Regions from separate parts of the Homo sapiens genome. Here regions 1 and 3 are each linked to region 2. The links come from fine-mapping of genetic effects on gene expression. A gene starts in region 2. Each other region holds a variant in brackets. All regions are shown on one strand. Distances are from middle to middle.

Region 1 (8,323 bases), 24 kb before region 2:
GGGCAACGTTGCAGCCAAAGATGTATACGTTTCCACTCTTTCTTTGTTTTTTTTTGAGATGGAGTCTCACTGTCACCCAGGCTGGAGTGCAGTGGCACAATCTCAGCTCACTGAAGCCTCCATCTCCCAGGTTCAAGTGATTCTCCCACCTCAGCGTCCCAAGTAGCTGGGATTACAGGCACCGGCCACCACACCTGGCTAATCTTTGTATTGTTAGTAGAGACAGGATTTTACCATGTTGGCCAGGTTGGCCTCGAATTCCTGACCTCAAGTGATCCACCCACCATGGCTTCCCAAACTGCTGGGATTACAGGCATGAGCCACCATGCCCAGCCTCACTCTTATTTTAAAAAACAAAAATACAACTGATGATCACAGCAGGCTAGATTCAATGGGCAAATCACAAAATTCAACTCATGAACTTGACTGTCCAAGGGTCCTGTAAATTCTGACATCCAACTGGTTATCTTCATTTTAGGAGAGCCCTCAAAGGGTACTATCCCTTGAATGTGGTCTTTATGAGCCCAATAAAAGATGAGAAAGATAAAACCTGTGGGAATTTACCACCAGCAAGGAAACTCTTGATTTTGGTTAACATGTATTGTAGGAATAATGAATTCCTGACGCAGATTTTGTCCTTCATATCCAGGAAAGCGCTGACAACATGCTGCTTGAGTTGAGATTCAAGGAAAAACATTTCTGAAGAGTTTTCTGAGACTCTTGCCTGGCTTATGCCATTCAATAAGCCCCATAAGGAAACTTTCCTATATGAGCAAAGGATTAGCTATAGGATGGTATAAAAGTCAGCACTGGATAAAGCCCTAGGCACATTTTATGTTTTCTCTACATACCACATGTTAAACCTTTTAGCACATCAGTATGCATAGATGGGGCAAAGAGGAAGACATACTTACTATATTAGGTCTACGTAATTAGGACTGAATTAATTCCATTATTACCTTTTTTTTGATAGAAAATCATACCTCCTGCATTATGCAAGCAATAGCTGATTATTTGTAATAGTGTACAAACAATGGCAGGTATTCACTCCATCACAGGTTTCCTACCTCACCAAATGAAAAGGAATAATTAAATAAGAGAGCCTAGTTTTCAAAAGGCTGCTTCATTTAATATTCATAACAACTTCAAAACTGAAAAATAATGTAATGCCTGTCAGATGATCTTCCATCCTTTGAAAAGGTTAGAAGAAGCTGCTGTGAGCAGTTCAGCTTGTGTATCCCAGGGAATGGTAGCTGTATTGTAACACCAAGTTGTCTGTTATTTCAAACTGGTAATTTGTTCCTTCCTTCAATCTAAATGTACTGTGGTTTTTGTTAGAGAGCTAACATGTATAATATGATGCTTTCCTGCAGTGAGTAAATTTTTTTTCTTCTCCTTGACTGATTCTTAACCGTAGAATAATTTTCTAGCTAGTCCAGCTCTATGATGTCATCCTGACTCCTGACATCAAGGACATGACCCCATTGAGGATGTGAAGGGAACTGAAAGAGGGCACCCAGATTGAGAAGGGACTTCGCCTGGATGGGCAGTGTGGTATAGGGACGGTTACAGACTCATTTAGGTGGGCACTGTGGTATACGGAGGGTTATAGACTCACTTACGCAGGAGGAGTAGGTCTGAATCCTGACTGCCAAGTTTTTGCCAAGAACAAGTCCCTTAAATTTTGAGTTTTTTAATCTTAAAAATAAGAGCCTTGAAGTTGATCTTTATTTCCATCTCTGACTCTGCAGTTGATAAAATTCTGTAGCTATTTCAATTGCATGTGGAAGGATTTTGTAAAATTTGAAGTGAGATTATGCATCTTTTTTTCTTGTAACACTTTTTAAGTACTATATTTTCAGGTGGAACAATGGGAAAAGTAAATCATGTCAAGCAACAAAGCTAAACCTTTCATTTTACAGATGAGGAAACCAGTGGCATATCCTCTTGGGTCCTCGTGCCCTTCCACTCTGCCTCTTTTGTTAAACCCAGTGGCTTTGCATAAGTCACCAGAAGTCTTCCAATGTCATTTTATTAGACAGATTTCACTCGGATATCTTGGGACCCAGTGTTTTCCCATTAGTCTTCATCAGCCTAAAATCATCTTAATCCTGTCCTTCCTGGAGCCCTCCCTGAATCATTGGCCTTGTGTATGACTCCTTTGCATTGACTGGATTGAGAATTTTCCATTCTCTCTTTTTCTCAAATGTCTGTTGCAATTTTAGGGAAACTTTTCACACTGTCCTTATTTTTACACAAAATCTGCAAAAAGAAAAATCTTTTTTTGCACATTGTATTGTTGGTGCAAATGTAATTGCGGTTTCGGACCATGGATTTTAAATGATAACTAGGCCTAAATACATCTTTATTAATCAAAATAGGAAACACTACAATCAACACATTTTTGCCAAGGAGAAATAAGTGTGTTTATTCCTGTAGCATAAAACTCCATGCTTTGGGATTCGGCAAACTCTTGAAAAGCACTTTCTGCATCCTGCTGGTTGTGGAAGAATTTTCTCTGCAAAAAGTTGTCAAGATGCTTGAAGAAATGGTAGTTGGTTGGCAAGAGGTCATGTGAATATGATGGATGAGGCAAAACTTCGTAGCCCAATTCATTCAACTTTTGAAGCGCCGGTTGTGTGATGTGCAGCCAGGCGTTGTCACGGAGAAGAACTGGGCCCTTTTTGTTGACCGACGCCGGCTGCAGGTGTTGCAGTTTTCGCTGCATCTCATCGATCTGCTGAGCATACTTCTCAGATGTGATGTTTTCGCTGGGATTCAGAAAGCTATAGTGGATCACACCGGCAGCAGCCCACCAAACAGTGACCATAACCTTTTTTTTTTTTTTTTTTTTGGTGCAAGTTTGGCTTTGGAGCTTCTCAGTCCAACAGCTGAGCTGGTTGTCAGTGGTTGTCATATAAAATCCAATTTTCGTCCCACGTCACAATCCGACTGAGAAATGGTTCATTGTTGTTGCACAGAATAAGAGAAGATGCTTCCAAACAACAATTTATTTTTGCTTGGCTCATGAGGCACCTACTTATTGAGTTTTTTCACCTTTCCGATTTGCTTCAAATGTAGAAAGACCATAGAATGGTCAATGTTGAATT[C/G]TTCAGCAACTTCTCGTGTAGTTGTAAGAGAATCAGCTTTGATTATTGTTCTTGAGTAGTCGCTGTCAACTTCCAATGGTCAGCCACTATGCTCCTCATCTTCAAGTCCCTCGTCTCCTTTGCAAAGCTTCGTGAACCACCACCGCACTGTACGTTCATTAGCAGTTCCTGGGCCAAATGCATTGTTGATATTGCAAGTTGTCTCCACTGCTTTACGACCCATTTTGAACTCGAATAAGAAAGTCACTCAAATTCGCTTTTTGTCTGACATCATTTCCATAGTCTAAAATAAACATAAACAGCAAGTAATAAGTCATTAGCAAAAACGCATAAAGCGAGAAATGCGCATTAAAATGATATATAACATAACCACATTTATTTAAGAATGTATTCCAATATCAAATGGCAAATTCCAACAGTGCAAAAACCGCAATTACTTTTGCATTCACCTATAATAAAGGTTTTCAAAGTAGTTGTTTGTTATCTCAAAGCTGGTTTAAGATATTGTAATGAAGTCAAATGTTCTGTACTGCACTTTTATACAGTTGATACAGAGAAAATCAACATTATATTTGAAACTACAGATTTAAAATGTTTCTCTGAAAATATTCAAGACGTCTAGCATGAAACTGATTCATTCAAGCAAACAGATTATAAGTGTATCTTTCAGTTTCATTAGATTTGATTACCTTGCATTCTTAATGTGCCTTACCTTTAAATTTAATTTTCTTGCGTACTGTGTTGAGCACTCATGATAGTTTTTTTTACTATGGTTAGTTTTATTTGCTTTCATTTTATTTTCTTTATAACCTATTTTTCCTCTCCTGTCCACCTGATTTTTGAATTGTCTGTATATAGCTATAGACATAGATGCTACTGGCTTAGATGCAGAAGAAAATGATATTCCAGCAAACCACCGCTCCCCTAAACCCAGTGCAAACAGTGTAACGTCACCCCACTCCAAAGAGAAAAGAATGCCCTTCTTTAAGAAGGTAACATTAACTTCCAAGCTCCCATTGTCCACCTGCTCAACTGCACTGCGTCACATTTCTAGTCCTGTTGACTGTCTGCGTCCTTTGATAAGCCAATAACGTGCATGCTCTGTTATTTGTTTCTTTTCCATGCTGCTGTAGCTAAGCAGAAGCAGAAATCGGTAAGTTTACATTGACATAAGCTGTGTTTATCCTGCCACTGGCATCATTAGCATTAATTCCCACAGTTGTATTAAATACAATCATTTCTGTCCCAAGCAAAGAACCTATCAACAGCTAATTGAGTTCATGCATTTCAAACCAACTAAATTCAGGGAGTGACCTGTTAAAACACCATTACAGTACTTATCCTTTTTGATGGAATAATATCTACCACCAAGGGAATTTGTTTCAACATTCAGGGATGTCAAACACTGACAGCTCCACATAATGCACCTAAATTGTGCATGCTTATTCTATCTCTTTCTTTTATCCAGAAATTTAACTTATGATCAAACATATTAAAGCAGTTATTAAATTCTGACTTATGATATCCAGATACATAGCTTGTACTAAAAAAAAAAGTATTCAAGTTTTAATTTAGTCAGTATTTAAACTTCTAATCCACTAGGTGCAAAATCTGCAGATGAACAAGACCAGTGGAAAACTGCAGGCTTGTTTTGGCGGTTTACTGTGAGTTTTTCCTATTGTCATATATAAATATTCTCCCGATGTTCTTGCCTTCTCCATCAGTCAGATTTTACCATCTCACCCTTTGGACAGTGCAGCCAGTGGTCATGCGTAGAGCCTTTGCCATTGGCCATCCAAGATGCTACACAGCGAGGCTCCTTGTCCCCTAAATGGAAACTATAGGGTATTCCTGAGCTCTCCTTACTTCAGACAAAGCCTTTTCCTCACCCATTTTGTAGCTTTAAAGCATTATTTTTTAAGGACCACTAACCTCCCCCCAAATTTCCCTTTTTTTCCCCTCTTTTACCCATCAGTTTCCACAGCTACCATGCTGTCTTTTAGAATCATACTAATGTCGCCAAGTCTGGCAAAACCATGGATATATTCTCACACGCAGATGTGATGTCAAATCTGTCTATCCTCTGCCCCCAAACTCTCCACATAATGAACACTTTTCCTCTGCAAACATGTATTTTGGTTTGTGGAGGAACTCAAGTCATTAATGAGGTGTCAGATACAGAACTGTAAAGTTGGCTTTTTTTGAATCAATTATGATTATTTTAATAAGGGAAAACTTCAGCACTCTGGGCAAAAATTGCAACACTTGGATTTTTGTGTTAACATAGCCTCAGCTTGATGTTCACCCACAACAGTGGGCCCATTTCTGGGGTCCGATCTTCTTGTTACAGCTAAAGCTTGCAGCCAAGTGACTAACAGTGTCTATCATTCAGAAGCTTAGAAAATCGGCATCGCTAAGACATTTGGGCCTTGACGGAGCAGGAATGTGAGCTAAAACCCTGTTTGTCAAGATAGGTTTGTGAAGTTTGCTTACCTTTAAATTCTAAAACTTTAAAAACTTTTATCACAATTTTTTCACTAAATAATTTGAGCAGGCAGGGCGCAATGGCTCACACCTGTAATCCCAGCCCTTTAGGAGGCTGAGGCAGGTGCATCACCTGTGGTCAGGAGTTTTGAGACCAGCCTGGCCAACATGGTGAAACCTCATCTCTGCTAAAAATACAAAAAATTAGCCTGGCATGGTGGCAGGCACCTGTAATCCCAGCTACTTGGGAGGCTGTGGCAGAAGAATTGCTTAAACCCGGAAGGCGGAGATTGCAGTGAGCCGAGACCATGCCACTGCACTCCGGCCTGGGCAACAGAGCTAGATAACTCTGTCTCAAAAAAAAGAAAAAAAAAATCAAGCTAAATGGGGTTAACAGGGAAGAGTAGATAAAAATGATGGCGTCATTCTTCATAGGGCACAAAGCACCAATATTCCATCAAATAAGGTAATTTCTGTAGCTACCCTATTGATTAAGAAGCTGATTGATTACCAGCAACGGGTGACCCTTTGCTAGTTGGCAGTTACAGATCGAAGGAACCAAAGACCTATCAAACACTGGGCCACTTCAGAATTAAAGTCTTGAGATAAAATTTCTTGGTAGCTGTTACTAAAATGCAGGAAATTTACATTCATAATTTCAACGGTGGAAAAGGTGTTCTTACACCGCATAGTTATCAGGACTTGGCTTCTAAACGTTTTCAGTATGATCCCAGGTGGTATAAATGAAATAGTTTAAGAAATATGCTTATGATGCCTTCGGCACTGGTATTCATTCTTCTTATGTTATTGATAATGTGGTTAACATCAATGTAGAATTCAAAAACAAAACAACAGCCTGAGATTCAATGAGAAGATCGTTTTCTATGTTTTAGGTTGCTTTTAGAGTGGTGCTTGTGTGGTACGTGTGCTGTCACTGTATTATGTTTGTCTTGTTTTTTTTTTTTCTGTTCAAAACTGTATTCTACCTTGATTGTGTCAATTAAAATTAATTCTGAATGCTAGGTGAAATTTTAGGCAGTGAAATTTGACAGCACAGTCATGGTAATATTTTTCTTCCCTCTGATTATATCGTCTGTGACTACGGGTAAAATCTCAGATGGAAGCTTTTGAATTTGAAATGCTTTTTAATTCTCCCCTGAGGCAATGTGAATTCAAATGAAGCCAGAAAAGTTTGTAATGGGCAATTTTAAGCAACAATAAAATGTTCTTGAGTGACGGGCAGATGCAAAAATGACATTCATATCTGCACATCAGTGTACTGAATTCTTAAAATCATTTACAGAACATTTTTCTGTTGGTGTGTGTGATTCTCAAGTTATATTTTTTGACACTCCTTAGCCAGAAAGATTCATATAGCAATGATTTGCTTATCGCAGTGTCTAAGGCCATATCACTCTTATGCATTTTTTTAAAAAGTCATTTTTGGGTCAATTTAGCATTTTATGCTATCAAAAGAGCCAATTTTAATATAAACCAATTTGCTGTTACCTAATTTTTGGAAAGATGTTATTTTACCATTTTATTTGAAGCAATTAACCTGAAAAGTGTTGACAGTTTTAGAAATTGCTACAAAATTTAGCTCCTCCCCTCTTATTAAAAAGAAATAATTTACTGCAGAAAGATGTCATTAGTTATCTGACAGAAAACTACTTTTGAGAATCATATTAGATATGCACATTGATAATGAACCTTTTGAGACCACAATAGCATGGTTGAATATATTATTATACATTAATCACCTTCCCTCGAAGACACATAAACCTTACCTTTGAAGTACCAAGGTATAGAAACCAAAAAATTCAATAGCATTAATCACTAAGCTGTGAGCAGGGATCATGATTACTGTTTACTAAAATAAGCATGCATGTTCATTTAAACTCTCACAATAATATAGAATTTTGACAGTAGTGAGAGTTACAATATTTTGAGATTAGGTAAAAAGTATTGGTAGTGAGAGTTATAATATTTTGAAATGAGGTTTTACACAGGTAAGACAAAAACCTAAGATGCAAAGGTAATGCAATCTTTCTTTCCTCTGTAATTAACCATGTTAGGTCTAATCACTACAACTCTTTAGAAAATTCAAATGCAGCCGAAAAGCAATATTAACTTCTAGTCAAGCCTAAAGCACCTATCTTGCATGAGGCATGTTTCTCTTTGTTCTGTCAACTAGTTTTTGTTCAAAAGCAGCATCTCTTGCTTTAGGAACGAATAGGTCTGTAGCATTTCTTGAGATGAGCAAGAAGACTGTAGACAACAGTAACTTGAAACTTCAGGAAAATGAACCCACCAATCTTTGACTGGGTTTATGTAGAAAAGAGGCAAGTGGGGAAAATAAAATGTCTGGAAAGCCAGTGCCTCATATTATGGAGTTCAGAAAGAGTACCTTATACACAAAATATTTATGTTCTACCTGCCTGTGAAACGTCTAAAAGCCTCTCCTCTCTCTGCAGACAGAGCACACTCCTCCGTATGATGTGGTACCTTCCATGCGACCAGTGGTCCTAGTGGGCCCTTCTCTGAAGGGCTACGAGGTGGGTAGCAGCCTTCCACAGGAAGCTTAACTTGCATGCTGAACTTCTTTGTGATGCTGCCTCCTACTCCCGACCCTCTCTCTGAATTTTACAGCTTAAGGAGCCAACTTTAGAGCTTAGAGAGCTCACAGCAGCAAAGCCTGTTGTTCTGCAAACTGGTATACACTGCTTCGT
Region 2 (8,323 bases):
TGGAGAGTGTTGAGACACTTTTAGAGGGTCCATTTAGTCAAAACTACTTCCATGATAATACTAAGACATTATTTGCCATTTTCACTGTTTTGATATTTGCATGGCTGATGCAAAAGCAATGGTGGGTAAAACTGCTGGCGTCTAAACATAAATCAAGACTGTGGTATCAAAGTACCAGCAGTTACTGTATTCACCGCCACCATGCTTTCGCAGTTTGAGGGGAAAAAAAGCCAATTTCACTTAATGTCCTTATAAAGTAGTAAAGTTTATTACTTTTATTAAATCTTGACTTTTAATATTCAGTGTACTAAAACAAAGTACACACAAAGCTCCTGCTGTATACCAAAAAGTAAGGACAAGCACTGGTTTGATTGAGTTGTGAACTAAACTAGCCATGTTTTTCATAGAATACCATTTTTATCTCAAACAACAACTGACAGGCTATGCTTATTCCGACTTGGTGTAGCAGATATTTTCTTGGACAAAATAAGCCTGTCACTTAAAGGAGAACAGCATGTGTTGCCAATGATAAAACTCAAGCTTTCAGACAACAATCAGAATTTTAGAAAACTTGTATGCATCTCTGAGAACTTGCAAGCTTCCCAATAAAGTTTTCTCTGAGATCAATGGTAATATTAATGAATATGATGTTTTAATAATGTATAATGAAATATGTCAACATTTGGAAGATCTGAAGTCAGTGAACCATTATTGTTTGTATGATCAATGAATAACATTAATTTTCAAGACAGACCAATGGAATGTCATGGAGTAAGAAAATTGCACTGCAGGTTCAGATTCCACATAACAAATAGTCTTTAAGGAACCACCATTTGTTGAGTTTTAGTGTAGTATCAAAGAAGACTATACTAAATTGTTTCTCCTTTTCTCAATTACAAATCTGTAGGAGGTTGGATTTTCTTCACGTATTTCAACCAAAACATGACATTGCAGCAGGTTGACTGTAGAAGCAAACAGGAGACTGCAATTGTCTTCTATGAAGCCAGCCAGCCAGCCATTAGAGAGATGTGTAAAAATGTAGCTATTTTTATTAAAAAAAATTCGGCCGGGCGCAGTGGCTCATACCTGTAATCCCAGCACTCTACTAGGCTGAGGTGGGAGGATCATGAGGTCAGGAGATCGAGACCATCCTGGCTAACACAGTGAAACCCCGTCTCTACTAAAAATACAAAAAAATTAGCCGGGCGTGGTGGCGGGTGCCTGTAGTCCTAGCTACTTGGGAGGCTGAGGCAGGAGAATGGTGTGAACCTGGGAGGTGGAGCTTGCAGTGAGCCGAGATCGCACCACTGCACTCCAGCCTGGGCAACAGAGCGAGACTACATCTCAAAAATATATATATATATATTTTAACATGTATCAGATTTATTGTGAATTTTTAAATAAATGTTTTAATAGTTTTCCATTTTAGCTTCTTTAAAGAGGTTGTGAGATAAAATGTTTGAGAGCTGCTAGCATAGAAAAAATGTGAGTGCTTAAAGCTTGCAACTGTGATTTATGTTAACATGTTAATTTTGCAGATAATCTTATAGCTCCATCTATTATAAGCCCCTTGTGCTGTATATAAAAAGGCCCCAGAGAAAGGAGTCAATAATGTACCTTGTACTTTACCTGGATGTAGTTATTACTCTGTTAAAAACTCATTATCTTTTACAGGTTTTACAAAGGTTAATAAAATCTCGAGGGAAATCTCAAGCTAAACACCTCAACGTCCAGATGGTAGCAGCTGATAAACTGGCTCAGTGTCCTCCAGTAAGTTATCTCTATATACAGCATAATCCAGTTACAGAGATCAGACCTTTTTTTTTTTTTTTTTTTTTTTTTTTTTTGGGGGACAAGGTCTTGCTCTGTTGCCCATGTTGGGAGTGCAGTGGTATGGTCTTAGCTCACTGCAGCCCTGAACTCCCGGGCTCAAGTGATCCTATTGCTTCAGCCTTCCAAGCAGCTGAGACTATAGGTGCATGCCACCATGATCGGCTAACTTTTTTTTTTCCCCCTGTAGAGACGGGGTCTTGCTATGTTGCCCAGGCTGGTCTAGAACTCCTGGCCTGAAGTGATCCTCCTGCCTTGGTCTTCCAAAGTGCTAGGATTACAAGCATGAGCTGCCATGCCTGGCCAGAACTGGCATTATATTTTGAAAAAAACAGTCAAACACCTGTCAGGGAAGAGAATCCTCATCACTTACAGTGGTATTCATTCCAAAGTAAACTGTCCTCCCTCCTTCCATGATCATGTGTTTTGAGCACAAGTAATCCAAACGATGATCATAGCTTACCAAAAGCTTCCGTACATCCTGCAGTAACTTCACTTTGTTAATATCCAACACAAGATCCTGGTTCCGAAAATTTGGCTTGTATGATGAGTCTATTTGGAGTTGGTATATTATTCATTTCTGATCATAGGGATCAAGTTGTCTGCTCTTAATAACTGTCTGAGACATTTATTTTCACATGGTCTCAAATCAATTTCTAAGTAATAAGTTACCTAGATTCTCACTTGTCGTCTATGCTTTACATGCAATGCCTTGAGGTATTAGAGCTTTCCTAGGTTTAGTTTTGGAGGCAGGGTCTTGCTTTGTTGCCCAGGCAGGAGTGCAGTGGTGGTGTCTCAGCTCACTATTGCAACCTCTGCCTCCCGGGCTCAAGTAATCCTCCCACCTCGGCCCTCCAAGTAGCTAGGACTACAGGCAAACGCCACCATGCCCTGCTAATTTTTGTATTCTTAGTAGAGACGGGGCTTTGCCATGTTGCCCAGGCTGGTCTCAAACTCCCGACCTCAAGTGATCCATCCACCTTGGCCTCCCAAAGTGCTGGGATTACAGGCATGAGCCACTGCACCAGGCTTTTTTTTCTTTTTAAGCATAGCCATTTCAGGGTCTATAAATATTTGATTGCTTAATATATGTTAAAATTTATAATAAACACTAAAAAATCTTTTGAAAAGTGGCATTATTTTCTTCTCTACTGAACTACTGTGAAGTTTGGACAATGTCAAAATTTCACATCCTAATCTTACCTTATTAATTTCTAAATTCAGATTTCATAATCTTGGGCCGGGCATGGTGGCTCATACCTGTAATCCCAGCACTTTGGGAGGCCGAGGCGGGTGAATCACTTGAGGCCAGGAGTTCAACACCAGCCTGGCCAACATGGCAAAACCCCATCTCTACTAAAAATACAAAAATTAGCAGGGCTTGGTGGTAGGCACCTGTAACCCCAGCTACTTGAGAAGCTGAGGCAGGAAAATCACTTGAACCTGGGAGGCCAAGGTTGCACTGAACCAAGATCAGGCCACTGCACTCCAGCCTGGGTAACAGAGTAAGACTCTGTCTCAAAAAAAGAAAAAGAAAAAAGATATCACAATCTTTATGTCAAGAACAGGCTTCTTCCTATTCTATTCTATTCTGTTCAAATATATATACATCTCTTTTCTACCATAGTATCTATGCCTTTTTCATTGCTGATTGATAGACAACTTTTCTGGGTTGCCATGTCCTTAACAACTGTTACCTTTCTGGCCATTATTTATTAGTTAAGCATTCAGTGCCCTCAACAATGATTTGAGGTAGTCAGACACTTCCTAACTAAATAAAAAGGGAGATAGTAGCAGCACTTATAGAAGCAGGAGCAAGTACAAAGGGGTGCAGCTCATGAGCCCCTTCCTCCTCTTATGGAGGTGGGAAGGGGGTGAAAACTGGGCTGGCATCAATGTGGTCTGGAATGTCTGCCTCTGCAGGAGCTGTTCGATGTGATCTTGGATGAGAACCAGCTTGAGGATGCCTGTGAGCACCTTGCCGACTATCTGGAGGCCTACTGGAAGGCCACCCATCCTCCCAGCAGTAGCCTCCCCAACCCTCTCCTTAGCCGTACATTAGCCACTTCAAGTCTGCCTCTTAGCCCCACCCTAGCCTCTAATTCACAGGTAAGGGGAGTTTTTATATATATCTATATATACAATCTTCATAGAAAAAAGGTTGCCTATGGTGACACCTCTAGGATCCAAGCCCAGTAGCCTGCTTGGGGCTTGTTCTAGTATATTAACTCAAAGCAAGTCCAGCATGAGCTGTGTATGTACCTGTAAGAAAAGCACCATCAACAGAATATATTGGGAACATACACAGACTACCGAAACTTTCTAAACAGTAGCATAGACTGTGGAAGTGGATCACCTAGATTCAAATCCTGGCTGCACCTCTTACCACTTGTGGGGTGGATAACCTGGGGCAAATTTCTTAACTGTTCTTACCTCAGGAATAATAATGGCAACCTGTCCAAGAGGCTGCTGGAATTAATAATCTCAAGAGATGATCTTATAGGGCTGTTGTATTAATGAGTTATTATATACAAAGGGTCTACAGAACAGTGCCTGTCCCATACTGTATCACTGTATCAGGTAAGCATTTGCTATTTTTAATATTCTCACATACAGTCAAGCAGAGGTAGTTAAGTTTACACCGCTGTATAGAAAAATCTCAGGGACCTGCATCTGTATTTGAGCCACAGGAGAATAAATAAAAGAACATTTTCCCTGCTGCTGCTTTTTTTTTTTTAAAGGAAAAAGTTACCATGGGCACTGTTCTAGGCACTTACAAAAGTCCAATTTAATATAGTATAGTATAAAGCCTTATAAATGCCACTGGATGTTACCAAAGGGATGAAGCTAGGTTAGACTTCATTTCAGCTTTTCGGATGCTTAAAAAGGACTCTGCTTGAATGCACTTGCTCTGGGACATGTTCTTTACACACTGACCTTGGTTAACGCCTGGTGTGCTCCTTTCGCTGCCAGGGTTCTCAAGGTGATCAGAGGACTGATCGCTCCGCTCCTATCCGTTCTGCTTCCCAAGCTGAAGAAGAACCTAGTGTGGAACCAGTCAAGAAATCCCAGCACCGCTCTTCCTCCTCAGCCCCACACCACAACCATCGCAGTGGGACAAGTCGCGGCCTCTCCAGGCAAGAGACATTTGACTCGGAAACCCAGGAGAGTCGAGACTCTGCCTACGTAGAGCCAAAGGAAGATTATTCCCATGACCACGTGGACCACTATGCCTCACACCGTGACCACAACCACAGAGACGAGACCCACGGGAGCAGTGACCACAGACACAGGGAGTCCCGGCACCGTTCCCGGGACGTGGATCGAGAGCAGGACCACAACGAGTGCAACAAGCAGCGCAGCCGTCATAAATCCAAGGATCGCTACTGTGAAAAGGATGGAGAAGTGATATCAAAAAAACGGAATGAGGCTGGGGAGTGGAACAGGGATGTTTACATCCGCCAATGAGTTTTGCCCGTTTGTGTTTTTTTTTTTTTTTTTTTGAAGTCTTGTATAACTAACAGCATCCCCAAAACAAAGTCTTTGGGGTCTACACTGCAATCATATGTGATCTGTCTTGTAATATTTTGTATTATTGCTGTTGCTTGAATAGCAATAGCATGGATAGAGTATTGAGATACTTTTTCTTTTGTAAGTGCTACATAAATTGGCCTGGTATGGCTGCAGTCCTCCGGTTGCATACTGGACTCTTCAAAAACTGTTTTGGGTAGCTGCCACTTGAACAAAATCTGTTGCCACCCAGGTGATGTTAGTGTTTTAAGAAATGTAGTTGATGTATCCAACAAGCCAGAATCAGCACAGATAAAAAGTGGAATTTCTTGTTTCTCCAGATTTTTAATACGTTAATACGCAGGCATCTGATTTGCATATTCATTCATGGACCACTGTTTCTTGCTTGTACCTCTGGCTGACTAAATTTGGGGACAGATTCAGTCTTGCCTTACACAAAGGGGATCATAAAGTTAGAATCTATTTTCTATGTACTAGTACTGTGTACTGTATAGACAGTTTGTAAATGTTATTTCTGCAAACAAACACCTTCTTATTATATATATAATATATATATATATCAGTTTGATCACACTATTTTAGAGTCTTAATGCCAAGTCAGCAGATTTGCTTTATGAATTACAGGGACTAGAAATGCCCACATTCAGGAAATTTGTAATAACATTGTCTAGACACCTATCCTCATTCTAGTAGAAAGTGTGTACATACTGTAAATATGTGTGATTGCTTGACTTGAAAAGGTTTGAATTCTGAATGTTATACCATCCTTGTAAGTAAGTTTGTAATTTCCACCATAAATTATGGTAAATATAAAACTCCAGAGGTTGTTCTACTCCATACAGTTCACACTGATTGTGACACATTCTTAGTAGCTAGTGTCTGTTCTAGTCACTGCACTGGAGTCTACGAGCCGGAACTCGCTATATGCACGTGTGTGTGTCCGTATGTAAGAAAGTGTGCACCGAGTGACTGAATGGTTGAGATGAATTGGAATGCTGAAGACTAACGAAGAAACTAGAGACTGATATCGAGCATTCTGCCCACCTCGCTCTGTATTTAATTAATTGTGCTATATGTTGCTTTAACAACCCATTGAGCAGTCAGGGAATGTGAGTAAGCTTGCTGCCAAAGGTAACTAGGAAAGCATTCATCTGCTGCCTCCTTGTTTTTGCTCCTAGAGAGTGAAAATACAGGCAATTTTACTGTGAGTGTTTCACTGGAAATGTACAATCTTTGTGTGTTAGAGTATTTGTTTTAGTAAGAAATGTTTACACAGCTTGTGGAATTATTTCGTGGGAAAATAAATTTTTATAACTTCTCCCACTTCAATTTCTAACCTTGCCTATTGTTCCTGTTGTTTGTTTACCTCCCAGTTACCTACCATTCCTCCCCACCACCGACTCCAGCAGGTTCACTGTCTGTCAGAACCCAGAAGTGCTTCTTATAACCAAAGTTTCTGTTCTTCAGAAGAAATCAGGGCAAAATGGGGTGACTTGAAGTGAATAAAATGTTAAGAATATTATCCTACATAAGACATGTACACAGAAGGGGAACCTTGAAGACATTATCTCCATGCCTCAATTACACTGCTGTAAGAAGCTTACAATGTCATCATGTTTAAGGCTAAGACCTTTTCCGTGTCTCAAGTGTATATTTTGTCCAGTTATAACTGGATGGTAAGACAGTATTAAGAGTGCAAGTACCTGGCACTTGAAGTTTGTCCCAGGAAAATGCCTGTGTATAATTACCTAACTTCAGATCTGCACATTAACTTATTTAACAAAATAAATCAGCCGGGCGCAGTGGCTCATGCCTGTAATCCCAGCAATTTGGGAGGCTGAGGAGGGTGGATCACCTGAGGTCAGGAGTTCAAGACCAGCCTGGCCAACGTGGCGAAACCCCGTCTCTACTAAAAAGATAAAAAATTAGCCAGGTGTGGTGGTGCACACCTGTAATCCCAGCTACTTGGGAGGCTGAGGCAGGAGAATTGCTTGAACCCAGGAGGTGGAGCCTGCAGTAAGCCAAGATCACACCACTGTACTCCAGCCTGGGTGACAGAGTGAGACTCCATCTCCAAAAAAGAAAAAAAAACAAAAAACAAAAAAAACTATCCAGCAAAATTATAAAATCTACTTTGTTTTGCTTCCTTGATTATTCCAAGTTCTTACCAAATATTCTTAGCCTTTTATAAGTAAAACTGTTTTACATTTAACTCCTTATTTCCCTTACCCCCAAGAAAACGCAATATTAAAAATGATTAAGCTGGGGTGGTAGAGTATACCTGTAGACCCAGCTACTTGGGAGGCTGAGATAGGAGGATCCCTTGAGCCCAGGAGGTGGAGGCTGCAGTGAACCGTGACTGTACCAATGCACTCCAGCCTGGTGACAACCTGGTGTTTAAAAAAAGAAAATAAAAATTAGTTACATATATAATGTTTTATCAGCTTATATATGAAAAAATTTCCCTCAGTTCGTTAATTAGCCCTACACTGTTTACATAAATTTATTTACTGAGTATAAAATCAGTAGTCATAATAAACTTGACAATTCTTACATTGGTAGGAAACCATATTCTAATTAAAATTGAATTTATAAAATATTTCTGATAAAACTTTTGTCATGGTAAGAGATTCACAATTATTAGTTCAATCCTTTATTATTTCATCCCAATTAATGATTTTAGAATATTTAAATTCTTGAAACATAGCTAGTATTTATCTTACTTGCTGCTATCATTAATCCCTTTCAAAAAGTAGTGGTGAGAGTTTCCATCTTTTTTATTTTGTATCTAGATTCTTAGCTTGCACTTTACTGTAGAACATATTAGTGCAAATCAGAATATTCCTCAAAGAACTAGCTTGAAGGATTTGACATAAGAGCCGCTATATGTGAAAAACTGTATAGTGGACATATGTGTAAACTGTGTAGTAAATCTGTAAATGAGGAAATAATCTCAAGGGCA
Region 3 (8,323 bases), 130 kb after region 2:
GTTCATGCCATTCTCCTGCCTCAGCCTCCCAAGTAGCTGGGACTACAGGTGTCTGCCACCACGCCCGGCTGATTTTCTGTATTTTTAGTAGAGACGGGGTTTCACCATGTTAGCTAGGATGGTCTCGATCTCCTGACCTTGTGATCCTCCCACCTCGGCCTCCCAAAGTGCTGGGATTACAGGTGTGAGCTACTGCGCCCGGCCCCAGCTTATTCTGCTCTTAACTCTGGACTGTAAGCAGGTTTCAAACACACTAAACTTAAACTTATCATCTATCTGCATCCTGTCTTCCAGACCATTCTTTGTTTTTGTTTTGTTTTGTTTTGTTTGAGACGGAGTGTTGCTCTGTCACCAGGCTGGAGTGCAGTGGTGCAATCTCAGCTCACTGCCACCTCTGCCTCCCAGGTTCAAGTGATTCTCCTGCCTCAGCCTCCCAAGTAACTAGGACTATAGGCACCTGCCACCATGCCCGGCTAAGTTTTGTATTTTTAGTAGAGACGGAGTTTCACCAAATTAGCCAGGTTGGTCTTGAACTCCTGACCTTGTGGTCTGCCCACCTCAGCCTACTGAAGTGCTGGGATTACAGGTGTGAGCCACCATGCCTGACCTGGCTAACTTTTTTCTTAAGAGATGGGATATTACTGTATTGCCCAGTTTGGTCTCAAACTCCTAGATTTAACTGATCACTTCTCCTTGGCCTCCCAAAGTGTTGGAATTACAGGTGTGAGTCATTGCACCTGGCCTAAAACATTCTGATTTACTGTAACTGATAGTAACAGTAGTGTCTTTTTTTTTTTTTTTTTTTTTTTTTTGAGATGGAGTCTCGCTCTGTTGCCCAGGCTGGAGCACAGTGACCCGATCTCGGCTCACCGCAAGCTCCGTCTTCCGGGTTCATGCCATTCTTCTGCTTCAACCTCCCAAGTAGCTGGGACTACAGGCACCCGCCACCATGCCCGGCTAATTTTTTTGTATTTTTTGTAGAGACAGGGTTTCACCGTGTTAGCCAGGATGGTCTTGATCTCCTGACCTCGTGATCCTCCCACCTCGGCCTCCCAAAGTGCTAAGATTACAGGCGTAAGGCACCACGCCTGGCCTAACAGTAGTGTCTTAACCTAACATTTCCTCATGTTAGGGACCTACCTTTCAAAATGGTGCATTATTGGTGAGTTTTACCATCACAGGCCTTCAGTATTATGTGAAGCATCATAGTGCAAAAGTGAAGCAAGGAGCAGGATTGTTTGCAAATGACCTGGGTCTTCATTTGAGTTGCTTCAAGAAGGAGCCATCTGGTACTGTCCTTCCATTCCTTTCTCCCAACAGGATTATCTGCCTTCAAGTTTTGCTTATCTTTAAACTAGTGGCTTCCTTCTCACCACTGCAGGCATGTTGTTTTCTGTAGATGCTTGGTAGGTGGAGCTTCTAGCTGTCACCAAAATTTAGAATGCTTAGTGCCAGGCAGTCTGTTTGTTCCTCACTGATAAAGGTTCTTGTACTTTAAGGGATAACAAACAGGGTAATACTTAAAGATTAGCTTCATTAGAGGACATGTAGCCAAGCTTGGTGGTGTGCACCTGTGGTCCCAGCTATTCAGGAGGTTCAGGTAGGAGGATCACTTGAGCCTGGGAGGTCGAGGCTGCAGTGATCATGCCCCTGCACTCCAGCCTGGGCAACAAAGCAAGACCCTGTCTCAAATAAATAAGGAGAATTATAGTGAGTTATACTAAGCAGGCAAGTTTTGTTTTGTTTTACAAAGCAGCTTCTACCATAGTGAAAATAGCCCTTCCAGAGGACCGTGTCTGTTTATCCTGCACTGTAATAGGCTGTATCTAGAGTGTGTAGGTCATTGGAAGACCTGCACATCTCAAGAACTTAAATTTTCTTGGTCCCTCTTTTTTTGGCTGATGAAGTTTAGAACTTCAGAGTAGGAATATGAGCTGATAGTTGATTATATGACCAGAATGTTGACATTCACCAGAGGTCATCAAGAAGAGCGGGATTCTGATATGAGATGTGCCCAATCGTTGCCTACAAATCAACTGTGTTGTGATTCTGTGGAAACTTCCCTACTTACCCTGTTGATGTTAACTTGTAACTTTTTAAGCATTCTTCTGCCTTGGAGAAGGGGATCTTTAGTATACTTGGCATAAGTGAAAATCTAGGAAAGATGGTATCTGGGTTGTTTTCTGTATTCAAAGGACATTGCAGAATATATACCACTTAACGGAATAATTAGATGAGCTTTAGCAACTACTTATTAAAAGAGGTGAATATTTAGTGCATGGCACCCAAAGGAGGAAAGAACTGAAGAGATTTTCATTGTACAAAGAGCAGAAACAGAATCTGCTCAAAAGAACTGTAGAAGCCGGTTGAAAAAATGTTAAACAATGAGTAATTGTGTAAAAACTTGAGAGTATATGTTTGTCTTTGTGACACATGAAACGTTTCAATTTTAAGCTTACATGGGATTTTTAAGTGAGAGGAAGAAACAGATCCTGGTATACATAGGTGGGGAAACTTACAGATATGAAAACATTTTGATAAAAAGCTAACTTGATTGGTACAGAGCTAAAAAGGTGTGTAAAACAGGCTTTTTAAAAAACTTACATTTAGGTTATAATTTTTGCCTAGATTAATATTTGGGTCTCCTCTCCCCTAGATGCAATATAAGTGACCAACTTTGCTGGTGTTTCCTGCCTACCCATCTCCCACATTCTTTTACATGAGAACTAGACAGAGAATCAATGATAATTGATTTTGTTACTTAACCTAGGTAGCCTTAACATCATAACATTTCTTTCTGCATTTTAAGTCTAGTGATAGATATTCAGTGAATGATTCTCATTAATGAGCTAACTAATAATCATTGTTGAAAGCATGTAATTGCAGTAATGCAGTAGTGTTAAATGTTTATGATTTGCTTTCTTTTTGTAGAACACAAAGTAATTATAGTGGGACTGGATAATGCAGGGAAAACCACCATTCTTTACCAATTGTAAGTATGGGTGTTTATTAAACAGTTTTCACTAGTTATTGAAACTAATGTGTTTACAATTAATAAGAGATGCATTATAATAATGACGGAAAAACTTAAATATATGTTTTTTGTTTTTTGTTTTTTTAATTTTACCGAACACAATCTATAGAAAAGTGAGTGAAATAAACATTTGCTAAACCCTTCACAAACACTTATTGTTTTCTGCCCTCGAAAGAAAGAAATTAATATTAAATAAATAAAGCGCATATTAGAAGTGCTGGGGTGAGGTGATAAAGTGGATTTCACTTAGTTCTTACCCCACTTGGGTTTATGTAAATAAATTGATAGCTCTAGGAAGCCATTGCTACCCTCCTGACTAATAGCTTTGGAATTTTTTAACATAGCCAGACTTGTCAAAAGAAATGTGATCACTCCTGAAAATATTGCTGTAGTAGCTTGCAAGAGGGAGAGTCTTGAGACTTTCAGAGAAATCTGTTAATACCTTAGGAAATTTTCACAGCTCATCATTCCACTTGTCAGAGTACCTTCCATTATCCTTTCAATGCCAATGAAATGATAGTATTAAGCAGTAGAAGTGGATCTACCAGGCACTTTAACAAAATAGTTCTACAGTTCTTTGCCCCATTGTGTGGCTCTTACCTCTTCCCACTCATGTTGCATTAGAAGACAGCCATCAGCTCACCAGAAGTACTTCATTAGCCAGTGATTAACGCATTTTTCAGCTACTTTGCTAAAAAGCTACTGACTTAAAGTTTGTTGTTTCAGAGTTGAACAACTACTTGTTTCTCTTGAAAACATTTTCATTCATTGGTGATTATGTGTTTAAATATGAATTAGCTTTTAAACATCACATATAAACATTTCAGAAACCTGTCATCTTTGTTGAAATAATTTTACACATGGCTTCAAAAATATACATAAAACCCAAGAGAATTGCAAGCCTCCTCCAACACAGTAGTGACATGTTACTGGCAAGGGCATATTTGTTGAATTAATTGATTAATGTAGCTTTACCAATGATTATGATAATACGAGGGGTATGAGCATCAGTATTCTAAATATATATATATATATATACACACACACACAAACACACACACACACATATTTGAGACAGAGTTTTGCTCTGTTTCTAAGGGTGGAGTGCAATGGCGTGATCTCCACCTCCCAGGTTCAGGCGGTTCTCCTGCCTCAGCTTCCAGAGTAGCTGGGATTACAAGCGCCCACCACCACGCCCTGCAAATTTTTGTATTTTTAGTAGAGACGAGGCTTCACCATGTTGGTCAGGATGGTCTCAAGTTCTTGACCTCAGGTGATCCACCCAAAGTGCTAGAATTATAGGTGTGAGCCACCACACCTGGCCTTCTAAATATATCTATAGTTAATTTAAATTTTTACTTGCCCATGGTCATCTTTTTAGGACTACTTTAGATTAATATGCCTGAATTAATTTTTGTGACTAAGTCTCAATTTAGACAGTCTTCAAAATTATAGATAGCCTGCTATCCAATATTTGCTATTTTGCAATCACCTAGAAACTTGCTTTTCAGGATGGCATGGGACATTGGGTCTTATCTAACTGATAACAGGGCATGGTGGTATTGGAATTTTTGGCCACAGAAATGCAAATTCACACCACACTGTTTCCTTTCTTTTCCATCAAGCTTGCAATTCCTTCCGTTAAAAAAAAAAACAAACAAGAAACAAGTCTTTCTTCTGGAGTTGTTATCTAGATATTGATTTGCGCAAGTGTTCTCCAGGTTTATAATTTTCATGCTAATGATCACCATCATTGGTGCAGAAGGTTGATTGATCTTAAAAATACAGAGATAAAAGTTGCTTCAGATTCTCAAGATTTACAAGAGCTTTTACGGTGTCTGTTTTTCAACAGCTTAATGAATGAAGTGGTTCATACTTCTCCAACCATAGGAAGCAATGTTGAAGAAATAGTTGTGAAGAACACTCATTTTCTTATGTGGGATATTGGTGGTCAGGAGTCTCTGCGATCATCCTGGAACACATATTACTCAAATACAGAGGTATGCTAAGATGAATTTTGAATTTTAATCCAAAGGTCCCTAGAGTAAACATAGAAAGTAATTAGGCTGCACCTGGGCGTATTGACAGTTGCCTTTTTTTTTTTTTTTTTTAAGACGGAGTCTTGCTCTGTCGCCAGGCTAGAGTGCAGTGGAGTGATC[T/G]TGGCTCGCTGCAAGCTCCGCCTGCTGAGTTCAAGCCATTCTCCTGCCTCAGCCTCCCAAATAGCAGGAATTACAGGCGAGTGCCACCACACCCGGCTAATTTTTGTATGTTTAGTAGAGACCGGGGTTTCACCATATTGATCAGGTTGGTCTTGAATTCGGGACCTCGTGATCCACCCTCCTTGGCCTCCCAAAGTGCTGGGATTACAGGCTTGAGCCACCGTGGCCGGCCTTTTAATAAGATCCTTTTTTGTAGGGAATTTGGGTTTCCTTTTTTTAAAAAATAAATAAATAAAAATTTCATAAATGAGACTTAAGAATTTGGGTTTTCGAATAAAAGAAAAGGCAAATAGAAAGATTGTTTGGAGCTATTATTACTTGAGTGCTTACTGTTTGGCCAGGTTCTCTCCATTCATCTTCACAAGATTTTCATGTCTCCAGGGTTGGAGAGATCTGACACGTGGAGATATTATGTAGGTTTCCCCAAGATCTCACAACTTTCTAAGAGACCCTGACCGGTGGAGGAATAAAATATTTTATTAATTTAAAAATTTTTTATACCATGAACATTCAAAATGTTGGTAGATTTTTTTTTAATTAGAAAAAAGTAGATTTGCAAATCATCTCTCAAAGTTCTCTGCCACTTATGAGTTCAGAGCTAACTTGGGGAACAAACCTGGATATATTCATGTTCTATTTCTGCTTTTATTTCTTATTAGAGGCAGATTTTTTTAAAAGCCATTCAATGTAGTTTAGAGAGATTTATCCTTGATAGTATGATTTCACAATTGCATCCATTTAATTGTTCTTTGCAAAGAAGTACACCTAACCAATTATTTTTTTCTAAAATGAAACCTTTTAAAAATTGGAGTTGGGCCAGACACGGTGGCTCACGCCTGTAATCCCAGCACTTTGGGAGGCCGAGGCGGGTGGATCATGAGGTCAGGAGATTGAGGCCATCCTGGCTAACACAGGTGAAACCCCGTCTCTACTAAAAATACAAAAAACTAGCCGGGCGTGGTGGGGCAGACTTGTAGTCCCCAGCTACTCAGGAGGCTGAGGCAGGAGAATCGCTTGAACCCAGGAGGCAGAGTTTGCAGTGAGCCGAGGTGGCACCACTGCACTCCAGCCTGGGTGACAAAACGAGACTCTTATCTCAAAAAAAAAAAAAAAAAAAATTGGAGTTGGAAGGGAAGAGGTAGAAAAGGATATAATATGAATAATTTTTGGTGAACAAAGTTGCCTCTTTAAAAAACATGTATTGTTCTAGATTTATATTATAATAGCATGTGTGTATGTGTGTATATATTCCAATGCAACGTGTAAGTAAACAAAGATGGCGTATCATAGATAATCAGAACTTGTGGTAGCACTGAATTATTTTATTGGGTATGCAGAAGCTGTAAGCAAATAATATAGTTAAAGGGTAGCTTATACATTTATACAGTAAAATAATGTTCTGAAACTAGAATAAGTTAGAAAGTAAGGGAAGGGCCAGGCGCAGTGGCTCACTTCTGTAATCCCAGCACTTTGGTAGGCCGAGGTGGGCAGATTGCTTGAGGCCAGGAGTTCAAGACCAGCATGGCCAACATGGCAAAACCCCATCTCTACTAAAAATACAAAAATTAGCCAGGCATGGTGGCATGTGCCTGTAGTCCCAGCTACTCCAGAGGCTGAGGCATGAGAATCGCTTGAACCTGGGAGGCGGAGGTGGCAGTGAGCTGAGATAGCACCACTGCACTCCAGCCTGGGTGGCAGAGTCTCGCTCTCTCTCAAAAAAAAAGAAAAGAAAGTAAGGGACAAATGACATTGTAGCATATGATTAATTTAAACATCAGAGCTGTTAGTAGTTTTAAGCTCACAGTTAACTCCAGCTGTGAAAAGGGCAGTTATCATTGATGAATAGGTCAAAGTTGATTCTAGTGAATCCATATGTACTTAAAGTGTGTCGAAAGGGTAGTTCTTGAAGTGACTGAAACTCTGGAGGACTTAGCATGGGTCCAGAAAGAGATATCCATTACTGATGCCATTTGCATGAAACGTTCTTTTAATAAGTGATCTCTACAAGAATATCAAAATTACTACAAAGAACAGTGGCGCCTGTCACTTTGCATTTTGAAAATTCTTCACGTGGAAGAGTCCCCCAAAAGCGGTAGTATGTCCATTATAATACAAGAAGTTACAGGTATTAAGTAATTATTGACACCTTCCTCTCATTAACTCACAGTTGTTTCCCATATTCTGTTGATTCCTCCTTTGCCACGCGACATTCTTTCCGTTTATTCCCTTCTAAGCCCAACTCAGTTTATATTCAGATTAGTTGTCTGTTTCCCTAATTTTATTTATTTTTGTTTTTTATTTATTTATTTTTTTGAGATGGAGTCTCAGTCTGTCACCCAGGCTGGAGAGCAGTGCAGCCTCCGCCTCCCAGGTTCAAAGGATTCTCCTCCCTCAGCCTCCGAAGTAGCAGGGACTACAGTACACACCACCACACCTGGCTGATTTTTGTGTTTTTAATAGAGACAGGGTTTCACCATGTTGGCCAGGTTGGTCTTGAACTGTCCTCAAGTGATATGCCCACCTCGGCCTACCAAAGTGCTGGGATTACAGGTGTGAGCCACTGCACCTAGCCTGTTTCCCTAATTTTAAAGTCATCTCTGTAATCTAATTCTACCCTTCATGTCTCAGTTTATTTTGCATCTATCTCCTGCTGTAATAACATCATTTCATCTCATTTCTTAACTTTTTATTCTGTATACAGTGTTCAGCTTAAGGGTGCTTTTTCGCTGTATCATCTCCTCCATCTCCTCCTCCTCCTCCCCCTCACCCACCCCCCACATTTTTTAAAAAATGAGTTAGGGCCTCTCTCTCACCCAGGCTGGAGTGTAGTTGCATGATTCTCAGTACAGCCTCAACTTCCTAGGCTCAAAGCAGTCCTCCCACCTTAGCCTCCCAAGTAGGTGGGACTATGTGCATGGCTAATTTTTATTTTTTGTAGAGAGACAGGTTCTCACTATGTTGCCCAAGCTAGTCTCAAACTCCTGGGCTCAAGCAGTCATCCCACCTCACCTCCCAGAGTGCTGGGATTATATGTGTGTGAGCCACAATGCCTGGCCTATATCTTCTTATT

Alleles and levels. Alleles are on the strand shown, and positions count from the first base shown. SD is a standard deviation of normalised expression in the study named. Not every link is listed here.
For the expression in skeletal muscle of the gene that starts at base 4,850 in region 2, G is the high allele of the variant in region 1 and C is the other (moderate effect, 0.45 SD a copy in GTEx).

What was found. PIP is the estimated chance that this variant, and not a neighbour inherited with it, causes the effect.
Region 1: its variant is fine-mapped to the expression of CACNB2-AS1 in skeletal muscle (GTEx, PIP 0.98).
Region 3: its variant is fine-mapped to the expression of CACNB2-AS1 in whole blood (TOPMed, PIP above 0.99).

What each region holds. Positions count from the first base shown.
Region 1 is chr10:18,510,268-18,518,590 of GRCh38, forward strand. CACNB2 (calcium voltage-gated channel auxiliary subunit beta 2) reads left to right here. Exons shown (of 14, transcript NM_201596.3): 7 at 3,969-4,102; 8 at 8,069-8,149. CACNB2-AS1 (CACNB2 antisense RNA 1) reads right to left here. Exons shown (of 3, transcript XR_007062076.1): 2 at 4,135-8,323; 3 at 2,349-3,393. Among named protein-coding and RNA genes, the nearest start is that of CACNB2-AS1, 25 kb to the right of the region's middle. The variant C/G (reference allele first, on the strand shown) is at 3,111.
Region 2 is chr10:18,534,427-18,542,749 of GRCh38, forward strand. It overlaps CACNB2-AS1 (CACNB2 antisense RNA 1), which reads right to left and starts at 4,850. Exons shown (of 3, transcript XR_007062076.1): 1 at 4,768-4,850. CACNB2 (calcium voltage-gated channel auxiliary subunit beta 2) reads left to right here. Exons shown (of 14, transcript NM_201596.3): 12 at 1,675-1,770; 13 at 3,754-3,939; 14 at 4,804-8,323. The coding sequence ends at 5,298. LOC124902387 (a long non-coding RNA gene) reads right to left here and starts at 370. Exons shown (of 2, transcript XR_007062077.1): 1 at 1-370.
Region 3 is chr10:18,663,644-18,671,966 of GRCh38, forward strand. It overlaps ARL5B (ARF like GTPase 5B), which reads left to right. Exons shown (of 6, transcript NM_178815.5): 2 at 2,932-2,992; 3 at 4,887-5,034. Among named protein-coding and RNA genes, the nearest start is that of ARL5B, 8.4 kb to the left of the region's middle. The variant T/G (reference allele first, on the strand shown) is at 5,194.